2 separate regions of the Homo sapiens genome follow, and region 1 is linked to region 2. The links come from fine-mapping of genetic effects on gene expression. A gene starts in region 2. The other region holds a variant in brackets. All regions are shown on one strand. Distances are between the middles of the regions.

Region 1 (5,320 bases), 26 kb after region 2:
AAGTGATTCTCCTGCCTCAGCCTCCTGAGTACCTGGGATTCCAGGCGTGTGCCACCACGCCTGGCTAATTTTTTGTATTTTTGGTAGAGACGAGGTTTTACCGTGTTGGCCAGGCTGGTCTCGAACTCCTGACCTCAGGTGATCCACCCGCCTCAGCCTCCCAAAGTGCTGGGATTATAGGCATGAACCACCACACCTGGCAGAAAATGTTCTTTTATAGTTAGCTTTTTTTGAGCTACAGTGTTAGCCCCTTTAAATTTAATCTTTAATCCAGTCTTGCTTGGTTTTGGGTTTTTAAATCTTAATTAGCTTATGTCATTGGACGATTTATTAGAAGTAGGCCATTTATGCCTTTCTCAACTCTTTTTTTTTGAGACGGAGTCTCACTCTGTTGCCCAGGCTGGAGTGCAGTGGCACTATCTCAGCTCACTGCAAGCTCCGCCTCCCGGGTTCACACTGTTCTCCTGCCTCAGTCTCCCGAGTAGCTGGGACTACAGGCGCCCGCCACCACACCTGGCTAATTTTTTCTTTTTGTAGTAGAGACCGGGGTTTCACCTTGTTAGCCAGGATGGCCTCGATCTCCTGACCTCGTGATCCGCCCACCTCAGCCTCCCAAAGTGTTGGGATTACAGGCGTGAGCCACCATGCCCAGCCACCTTTCTCAACTCTTATGGTCAGCATCTCACCAGAAACACTTGCCACTTGTTTGGTTCTTTTGGTCTATCATTAGGCCAGTAAGCAGCCTGACTGCTGTTTACCCAGCCCTCCTGTTACTTGTGGGTTCTAACAAATAGCTTTAAAGTTGTTTTATGGTTAATTCAGTGTTCAGCTTTGGGGAAAGAAGTGCTTAACTGCCATTTTAATTCCCAGGGAACTGCTTAGTTCAGCATATTACCCAGGTAGAAAGTTACTACCTACAAAAGATAGATTACTACTTTTAGTAGCATTTATCAACACCTTTCCTAAAAAAATTTAAGTTTTTAGTACAGCTTTAAAATTTTACATCTTAAGTGACTGGTTCACTCTTAAGTAACTGCATGTGTTTATGGCCTTCATCTCTGCATACATAGAGGGGGTTAAAGTTACCGAAAAGTGAAAGACGTGATTAGGCAGTGTTACTCTTTTTGAGACAGCCTCACTGTCACCCTGTCCTAGAGTACAGTGGTATAATTCAATTACAGATCACTGCAGCCTCAAACTCCTGGACTCAGATGATCCTCCTGTCTCAGCCTTCCAAGTAGCTGGGACTATAGGGGTGTGCCACCACACCTGGTTAACTTTTAAATTTTTTTGTAGAGGCAGGATCTCATGTTCACCGGGGTGGTCTCAAACTCCTGGACTCAAGAAGTGATCCTCCCACCTCAGCCTCCCAAAGTGTTGGGATTACAGGAGTGAGCCACCGTGCCCTGCAATTCTTGTAAAGTGTATTGTAATGGAAGGAATGATAGCCTTGTCTCTACAGCTAGATTATGAATTACCAGAATATTGTGCTTCCAGCTTCTAGCATGGTGTCTGGTGTTATTGTGATAATAGAAATAAAATTTTAAGTGCTTACTCCTAAGTGCTTACCTGTATTTTTTCTCAATAATCTTAGAGGTCTCTGCCTTACAGGTGAGATAACTGAATCATTGAGATTAAGTAGTTCACACGGTGTATAGTGCTGTAATTCAAAACCAGACTCACCCCAAAGCCACTTATGTTTATACCATCTCCCATAGTTGAATGAATAATACAATTTGTGTAACAATGAAACTTTTGAAAATCCTGGTCATTTGTTTCTTAAAACCATTGTTTTTAAGTGGAAAGACTCACTTGACTATTTTAAATGCAAGTGTCTTCCACTGTTTGAGGCAGATCTCCACAGAGCAACCATAGGTGGTAAAAAGCATTGTATTCAAAGGACAAAACACTTTTGCAGCTAAGAGAACTTTGAATATGAAAGTATGAATGTGGTGTAAGACAGAGGTTGCTATCCTAACCAAAACGTTCTTCTGATTTCCGGCCAGTAATTTTATTTTATTTTTATTTATTTTGAGATGGAGTCTTGCTCTGTCATCCAGGCTGCAGTGCAGTGGTGCAACCTCGGCTCACTGCAGCCTCTATCTCTCGGGCTCAAGCAGTTCTCCTGCCTCAGCTGGGATTACAGGCGCCCGTCACCACGCCTGGCTAATTTTTGTATTTTTAGTAGAGACAGGGTTTCACCATGTTGACGAGGCTCACCTCAAGTGATCCTGCCACCCTAGCCTCCCAGAGTGCTGGGATTACTGGCATGAGCCACTGTGCCCGGCCTCAGGCCAGTATTTTTAAATATCGGTTAATAATTGCAGGAAACATCATTTCAGGTTGACTTTTCTCACCTTTAACCTCTTTATATAGCACAGTGCAATCTGGCCCTACTGCCACTTCATCTGGGTTATCTGTAGCTTGAGTTGTAAAAAAAAAAAAAAAAAAA[AT/T]TGGGGGAAGAAGTTGGGTTAAAACTGTTCACCTACCCAGCATTGGAACATAATGGGTAAACAAAAAGTTGGAGTTACCATTTAAAAGCATTTTTCAAATTTATATTTTATATATAAGTAGGTGCTATATAAACTAATACTTTTTTTTTGTAAGAATGGATTTGGAATTTAGCTCAGCTGAAAATTGACTTCACCTTGATTCTCAGAGTGTACTTGAACTTTAAAGGAAGTGGGGTAGTGAGAATGGGTGGTTGGGGTTTTTTTGCTTTAATGTTTACCTAATTCTACTACTAGAATTATTTTTCTCCCCCTTAACTGGAAAGAAAAAAATTACACATTTATTGAGACTTCTTCCCATCCCCAACACAATGATCTAATCTTTTTGCTTTAAAATCAGTTAAAGAGTGTAATTTTTAAAATCCTAATCAAATGACTCAGATTGTAATAGTAGTTTTAGACAGAATTTTATAGGATGATGTTTTAATTTTATCTGTTGTCTGGGATGATCTGTAATCGTGTATCTTACTAGCCGAAAATGACTTCAATGAGATTAAAGGTCTGCTCTTTAAAATCTGTAAGTCTCCTACCACTGTCTTTAGGAAAAATAAAACTTTTGAACGGTTTTTTTATCTGTTGTGAGGTTTGCTTGAATTGTGTTGTTATAAATGAAGTTTATTTTGTTCCTCCTTCTCTGGCATGGACTCCTTAAGTGTCTTACATTATTGGTTTCTGCTTTAGTCATTTCTCCAGAGTCCCAAAAGGTTCATCCCGTATGTTCTTTCTATTTTCATGTCATGACCACATGAAACTTCAGATGGAAAGCTTGCCAGCTCATTAGAAAATGTTCCTAAATGTGAACGGTCATGCCCCACATTCATGAAGTCAGCATGTAAATAGATAACATTGTCAGGGACCAATGTTCAATTTTATTGTCCTCAAATAATAAACTGAACACTAACTTCAAACTTAAAATATTGCTGCCCAAAGCATTCTGCTTTAAACCACAAATTCATGTGCCAGCTGCATTCACAATTGTATTGACAGTGACTGGGTGTTTAAGTTTTATAACTTAGGCTATAGTTTGTTCTTTAAGAAATGCAAGTTCTTTCAGTTTTGTAAATGTTTTATTCTCACTATGTCTGTTTCTTTTCTTCTTAAGTCTCTTTTGGAAAAGTTCTTGATCCCCAATGCTTCACAAGCAGAGAGCAAAGTCTTCTATTTGAAAATGAAAGGAGATTACTACCGTTACTTGGCTGAGGTTGCCGCTGGTGATGACAAGAAAGGTATGCTGTTTTTAAACCTGTTGGTTGAACTTGTATAAGATAACATAGTGAGGAAGAGTCTCTGAAGCGTACATAATGTCTTGTTTTGAATTGCTTAGAGTGCCGAATAAGGAGTAGCAGTGCTCTTTGTGTTCTGAGAATACACATCTACTGCCTCATACTGCTATTCTAAAATAAATGCTTTCTGAAAAGCCAATATTGTGTACAGGGATGTTTTTTCAAGATTTTAAGAAAAGTGACCAGCCTGAGCAACATCTCTCTCTACAAAAAATATTTTGAAAATTAGCTGGGCATGGTGGTGCAAGCCTTTGGTCCCAGCTAATCTGGAGGCTGAGGTGGGAGGATTGCTTGGGTCTGGGATGTCAAAACTCGTCAATTTTTTAAAAACATAACAATAATGAGATTATAAAGTTGTTTTATCTTGACATTGATCAATGGCTAGTGTGTACCAGGAGAAAGCTCCCTTTAAAAAAAAAAAAGGACCTTGTTCAATTAACAAATATTAAGCTGTTACAGGTTAGTATTTCAAAGGATATGTGAGATATTAAAGGTTTGGTTTGAGGGGTGAAGATATAATGCACACTTTATCTCAGTACGTTTTGGTGTGTCTTATCCAGGGATTGTCGATCAGTCACAACAAGCATACCAAGAAGCTTTTGAAATCAGCAAAAAGGAAATGCAACCAACACATCCTATCAGACTGGGTCTGGCCCTTAACTTCTCTGTGTTCTATTATGAGATTCTGAACTCCCCAGAGAAAGCCTGCTCTCTTGCAAAGACAGTATGTATTTTACCTGTTACGTAGAAATTTAGCAGTCTTTATTATTTGAGCACTGAAATGTAATGTACTATTTTTAAATCGTAGGCTTTTGATGAAGCCATTGCTGAACTTGATACATTAAGTGAAGAGTCATACAAAGACAGCACGCTAATAATGCAATTACTGAGAGACAACTTGACAGTAAGTACATAACAGCATCATTAGTGATGAATGTGGTTGAAGAGGTTATGTTTTACTCTAGGGAATTTTTTTTTTTATTAAATACATCTTTTAAAATTTTTTCTCAACACATTTCATAGGCTCTCATAAATATATCTCAGCTACTATTAAAGTCCTATGAAGGAAAATTACAGAAACTGAAATATTAGACTGAGAACTAAAAAATACACACATTGATGAGTTACCTGTCTTGTTAAAATTTGTTAGTATCAAAAGTGTGCTGAGACTCTACATGTTTTAGTTCCTTTAAGAATGATTTTCTTGCCCATCAAGTTGCCTCCATATTGGTAAAGATAATGGTAGGGAATTAATAACTTGAGTTACAAAATCTCAGGTATCTACAGAATCCAAGTGGAAGTCTATTTTGCCTAGCTTCTTATTTTAAATGACTTAATATGAAAGGTCGTGATTGTCCTTGGGATACTGCAGATGTATAAAAAGAAACAGTGTCACTATCACACCAGGAACATCAACATAATTCCCTAATAATGTTTGAATATCTAAATAATACTTGAATTCCAATTATCTCTCTTTTTTTAAGTTATTTGAATTGGGATTCAAATTCAGTCCACAATGCAGTTGAT
Region 2 (5,371 bases):
CCTCTAAAACAAAAGGCATATACTCTACATAGACATATATTTGAGACATTAAAGAAACATCAATTTCCATTTTAAAAAAACGTTTAACTTAGTATCCTCTGTCAAATTTCTGGTGCCTACGAAAAAACTGTAAAAAAAATAGCTTTTGAAATATTACTCATTTTAAGTGAGTCACGCCCTAAAAGAATTTACTTGGGAGTCAAAGCTAGTTGACCCTAACATCTCAGAAATAAAACTCCAATTTGTTTATCCATTTAACCTACCATGAGTCTGTGATTTGGCAACTTGTGAAAAGCAACAACAAAAAAACCCACTAAAATATAACTGGTCACTGGAAACCCTCTTTCTGGTCTGTACTATCTAAATGCCAGCTGTCATGTCAGGCAAAAAGTAATTTGTAGAGCAGCCTTGTGGTCCACTGTATTATGTAGGAAAGACAATGTACTGGAAGAGCGAGGACTCAATCATTTCGTGTCTACTACTGAGAAACTAAATTCTGTAGAGAACATGAGGCTAAACGGAGGCTCTGGTCAGCTCAATAAAGATACGTTGGAAGAATCAATGGGGAGTTTACACAAGAGTAAAATGAAGAGTTCCAAGCTCTCTCATTGCTAACCGTACACTCTCCATGGCTGTTGCAAGTGGTTTTGCAGGTCATCCAAGCACTAATCTTTTCTTAGCCCGAACACATTTAAAGAGGGAAGGGGCAGAGATCATTCACACTGTGAATGTTTCTCTCTGAACTTCCTGAAGTCAACTGGGCGGAGGCCCTACCGGTTCAGGCACCTGCAATTTCCGCCTTTCTCCTTCCCCTTCTTCCGGGCTCCCGTCCCGGCTCATCACCCGGCCTGTGGCCCACTCCCACCGCCAGCTGGAACCCTGGGGACTACGACGTCCCTCAAACCTTGCTTCTAGGAGATAAAAAGGTAATGATCGTCATGTGCAGTATGAGGTCTTCACGTGAAAGCTTTATTTGGGTAGGAAAACCTAGCCTACGAGAAACGGGTCCGTGCGGTCACGCCTGACTGCCTGTCTCCGGGTCAAGGCTGCCAGGACCAGCTCCAGCCCTCCGCCCGAGAAGGCTGTCCTTTCCCCTCGGAACTCTGGCTTCCCTAAAGCGGCCGCGCCTCCTTCCAGGCCTCACCTCCTGCCGGCTCCGCCCGGCCCGGCCCACCTCGCCCCCACCTCGGCGCCCACCCATTGTCCCCTCGCGCAGTCACCGAGCGCAGATCCCGCGCTCTCGATTGGAACGCCTCCCCATCACTCAGCCACACTCAGGGGCTGGACGCCTCACTCCCGTTTCCGAGCCATAAAAGGTCTAGGACCGCTTCCCCCGAGCCAGCAGGTAAAGCCGCGGCGGCGGGAGGGAGGCCGGGAGGGGCCGCGCGCCCCGGTCGGCCCAGCCGGGGAAGGGGAGCGGCGGGCGGGGCGGGGGGCAGCGCACCACACACAACCCTCCCTTGCCGTGCGACCGCGCCCTGCCCCCGCCCCGGGGCCCCCGCCCCGCAAGTCCTGATCACAATGCCGGAGCCGCCGAGCCACCCTTGTCATCCTGCCCGGGGACGGCCCTGGGGCAGTTACTACCGCGAAGCACGGAGGGTGGGGCGGGCCGGGCCTCGGGGAGGGGTGGGGGGATGTGAAAGGTCCCGGATGTTGCTGAACGGGAGCCCCTTCCAGAGGGAGTGACTGGGGCAAGCGCAGACGGGCTGAGCGAAAGCTAAGGTGGGGGTAGGGAGAGAACGCCTTCCCGCCGGCTGAGAGGAAGAGTGGGCCGGCAGAGGCTGCAGGGGAGAGGGAGAGAGAGGGCGTTGGGGACCCAAAGGGAAGGCGAGGAGTGGGGGATTTGCGTTGGGGAGGAAAAGGAAAAAAGCAGCCTCCTGCCCTAGGTGCACTCGGGACAAGCGTAGAGGAGCTGGAAGCCGAGCGGGGTGGGAGGAGTGGCGGCTGCGGGCGAGGACGCGCGCGCCTCCGCTCGCCCTCCAGCGCGGGCGGGCAGGACGAGCGCCGGGGAGCGGCGGTTACGCGGGGCCCCGATCGCTGTGGGCACCAATCAACGGTTGCCATAGCAGCGTTTGACGTCATCGTGCGTGTGGTGCCCCTGCTGCCGGGGCTGGTGATTGGAGGAAACCCCGTGTCTGCGGAGCGGCTGTAGCCTGTGAGCAGCGAGATCCAGGGACAGAGTCTCAGCCTCGCCGCTGCTGCCGCCGCCGCCGCCCAGAGACTGCTGAGCCCGTCCGTCCGCCGCCACCACCCACTCCGGACACAGGTGAGGAACCCGGCCGCCGCCGCGCCTCGCTTCCTGTCCCAGGCCAGCCTTCCGAACGCGTGGGAGCCGTCCTCGCTCCGTCCCCTCATCCCCACTCGCCCCGCGGTGGCGGCGCCGGGCTGAGGCGGAGTCTCCTCAGCGGACACGGGCGGCGGCTCCTCTTCCGCTGGGCTCGGGAGGGCGGCTAGCGGCCGCCTCCGGCTCCTTGCTTCCGCATCGACGCCCCGGCGCCGATCGGTGCTCGCTCCCCCGTCCTGCCCCCGGGGGTGGGTAGGGCGCCCACACGCGAGATCCCTGGGGATCTCCCTGTCGCCGGCTCCCGAAGGTGGACGAGGCATGGCCGGGGCGCCGCCGGCCGCGATCCATCCCCACCCTTGTCTCTGCGGGCTTCCACCCCCTCCCTCGCCGCCCTTCTCGCTTCCGCCCGAGATAATGACTCGGCGGCGGCGGCGGCGGGCATCGCAGTGGCGCAGGTGAGGCCGCCCCCTCCCCTCTCCCTCGGCCGCCCCCTCCTTTCCCTCCCCCTCGCGCAGCCTCCGCGCTGGGCGCTGCGGCGGCGGGACCCGGCCCTCCCCCACCCCGGGAGGCGGTGGCGCGGCGGGGAGGGGCCGGGGGCCTCGGGGACCCAAGCGCGAGGGAAAGGCCTGGCCGAGAGCGGGCCGGAGCCCAGGCCTGGCGCGGCGGCGCCCGCCAGGTAGACCGGGGCGAGGCTGCGCGCCGGCGGGAGGGGAGTCCACTGCGGGGTGAGGTTTTGGGGTGGGGCTCGCCTGGGACCTAGAGCTGAATTTCCTGGGCTCCGCGGTGGGAGGAAGGACTTGAATTTTCCTGGTGGGGGTGGGGGATGGGTCTGACTTTTTTTGCTCCTTGTGAACGGGCGGGGGAGGTGTGGACGGGGGCTGCAAGTCCAGGTCGGGGTAGAGAACAGGGTGGTGAGCCCGCAGTCGGCTCCCGTGCTTGATGGACTAGAACTGGAGGGTCCCTGCGCTCGGTTTGGGGACGCATATCCTGCTTTGGGGGCGGGTGAGCCTGAGCATAGCCGCTGGTGGCCCGCTCGGCTGGGTGTGGCTCTCGTCCCCTCCCCCACCTGCAGCTGTCGGTCCCTTAGAGACGCTGTACACGGTCACCGGCGCTGATCGGTGGCGGGGAAGGCGCTGGGTGGGAGAGCGGGGTGTGTCCGCGGCGGGGCTGGTAGTGGTTCCGCTTCTGCGGGCTGCTGTGGCGTCTCTGCCCCGGGGTCGGGCGGCTTCGCTCCCCATCTCTCCCCCCCCCCCACGGCTTGGGCGGGGGCGCGGGCTGCTCCTCCCTCTGGCTCCGGTCGGGGGGAGGAATTAACACTCTGCAGTAGGTTGGGCTCCCTGACACAGATCCGCCATGACAAAGGAGGAGAGTCGGGGACTTGAGCCGTGGCTCCGACTTGGGCGGAGCCTGGAGGGGGGTGGTTGCGATACGCGGACCGGAGAATTTGCACTTTAAAGTCCGGGTCTGCCCGTTTTCGTTTCACAGTAACCGACGTCTCAAGTCAGGTAAGGGTTAAATGGGTGCGGTGAGTCCTGCCCGCAGTGTAGAGGCGAGGCCTTGGAGCACTCGTTACTGTGTGAGAAACCTTATCCACTTCCTCTTGTACCGAAGTGATTGGGGAGAGAATCCTTTGTACTGGCTTAAATCATTTTTTGTTAGAAGCAGAAATAACCAGAGAGCGTTTCTGAGATCCTAAGGGAAAAATCAGTAATTTAGAGACCTGACGAAAATAATGCCGTCATAAAGGTTAAATAGTTTACGTATTGAGCCAGTACCTTGCATCCAAAGTGGTTAATTATTTGTTTAAAATGTGGCGACCTGTTCTCTCATTTGGTTAAAAAAATATTGTGGGATTTCCCTGGGAAGGTAAAAGATGATTAATATTCGGGAGCCAGCTGCCAAGGTGGACTCTTCTGTTCACCTTCTAACTTAAAAGTGCACTTCATTCAGGGTGTGTATTTTCCTCTGAAGTCATTTATTCTGTGGTGTCACTGTGTGGATTAGTATCTTTGTGCTGTTCGGCAACTTGCAAAAGGGTATCTTTCCAGAAAAATGTAGCTGAGGTAAATCGAAAAGGTCCAGGAAACTAAAATGCGAGGGAAAGAGAATTAGATGGGTAGTCATGGTAAAGGACAGCTTGAGTGGTAACATCCAATTACATTATGATGGCTAGAAGCAAAATGCAGCACTTCTGCATTTCAACTGGAGCGATGACATTGGAAACACTTATAAATTAAGTACTTCCAATGTGATATATTCTAGTACTCACAGTAAGAGTTGAAGTGTCATGACTTGCGGATATTTTTAAAGCATGTGGACATATAACAAGATAAAGAGTTGAGACATTAGGGTCAGATATTGATCCTTTGTGGTGGATTTATACTCAAAATATCTGAAAACAAACAGTTGGTCATTCCCCCCCAAATTGTTATGCTATTATTGGCTGGCAGTTGTTGCAGAGATCTAGTAGGTTTGGGGTAGGGGTAACACTAAAGCTAAAATGTAATCACTCTTGACAAGAGTATTATGAAAGTAAAAAGACGTGAGTTACATTAAACTGATATGAATTATGATTCTGGAAATATGATAGAAATCCAGATGTTCTCTGTAAACAATGCTTTTACTAAAGGAAGAAAAGCTGCTTAATTTTGGATCACTTAGTGGTATTGGAAATGAGTTGAGATTTTGATCAGGTAAGATTAGGGGTAGTTTTTGAGGCAGCTTTTGGAAGTAATTTTGACATGTGAAATTTGGGTCTTCTGAACAAATTTTAAGTTTTGCTACACTGATGTGTTAATGGCTGTAAGTTTACCTCTGATGCTGAGTATGCTAAATTTTTTTCCCTTTTTTGACTATCCTTTTGTGAGGCTGCATTTTAATTCCTCATGTGAACAGTCTTTCACAGGCAGTTAGGTTTCAGGTTTAAAAAACTCATTTACCACAGGTATAATTTTGAGTCTGTTTATTTTGATGGGAAAAATTTTAAATACTCCTTTTTTCCCCCCTGCAGAACATCCAGTCATGGATAAAAATGAGCTGGTTCAGAAGGCCAAACTGGCCGAGCAGGCTGAGCGATATGATGACATG

Which allele goes with the higher level. Positions count from the first base shown, and alleles are read on the strand shown. Sizes are in standard deviations (SD) of each study's normalised expression.
For the expression in iPS cells of the gene that starts at base 2,175 in region 2, allele T in region 1 goes with a lower level than allele AT (large effect, 0.91 SD a copy in PhLiPS).

Evidence for each region.
Region 1: its variant is fine-mapped to the expression of YWHAZ in iPS cells (PhLiPS, PIP 0.95).

Annotation. Positions count from the first base shown.
Region 1 is chr8:100,923,332-100,928,651 of GRCh38, reverse strand. It overlaps YWHAZ (tyrosine 3-monooxygenase/tryptophan 5-monooxygenase activation protein zeta), which reads left to right. Exons shown (of 6, transcript NM_145690.3): 3 at 3,613-3,736; 4 at 4,354-4,517; 5 at 4,602-4,697. Among named protein-coding and RNA genes, the nearest start is that of YWHAZ, 26 kb to the left of the region's middle. The variant AT/T (reference allele first, on the strand shown) is at 2,453.
Region 2 is chr8:100,948,824-100,954,194 of GRCh38, reverse strand. It overlaps YWHAZ (tyrosine 3-monooxygenase/tryptophan 5-monooxygenase activation protein zeta), which reads left to right and starts at 2,175. Exons shown (of 6, transcript NM_145690.3): 1 at 2,175-2,266; 2 at 5,295-5,371. The coding sequence starts at 5,306. RefSeq lists enhancers at 691-820, 831-940, 1,220-2,078, 3,231-3,310, 2,937-3,796 and 1 more and silencers at 1,081-1,760, 1,781-2,040, 2,271-3,040, 3,431-3,650.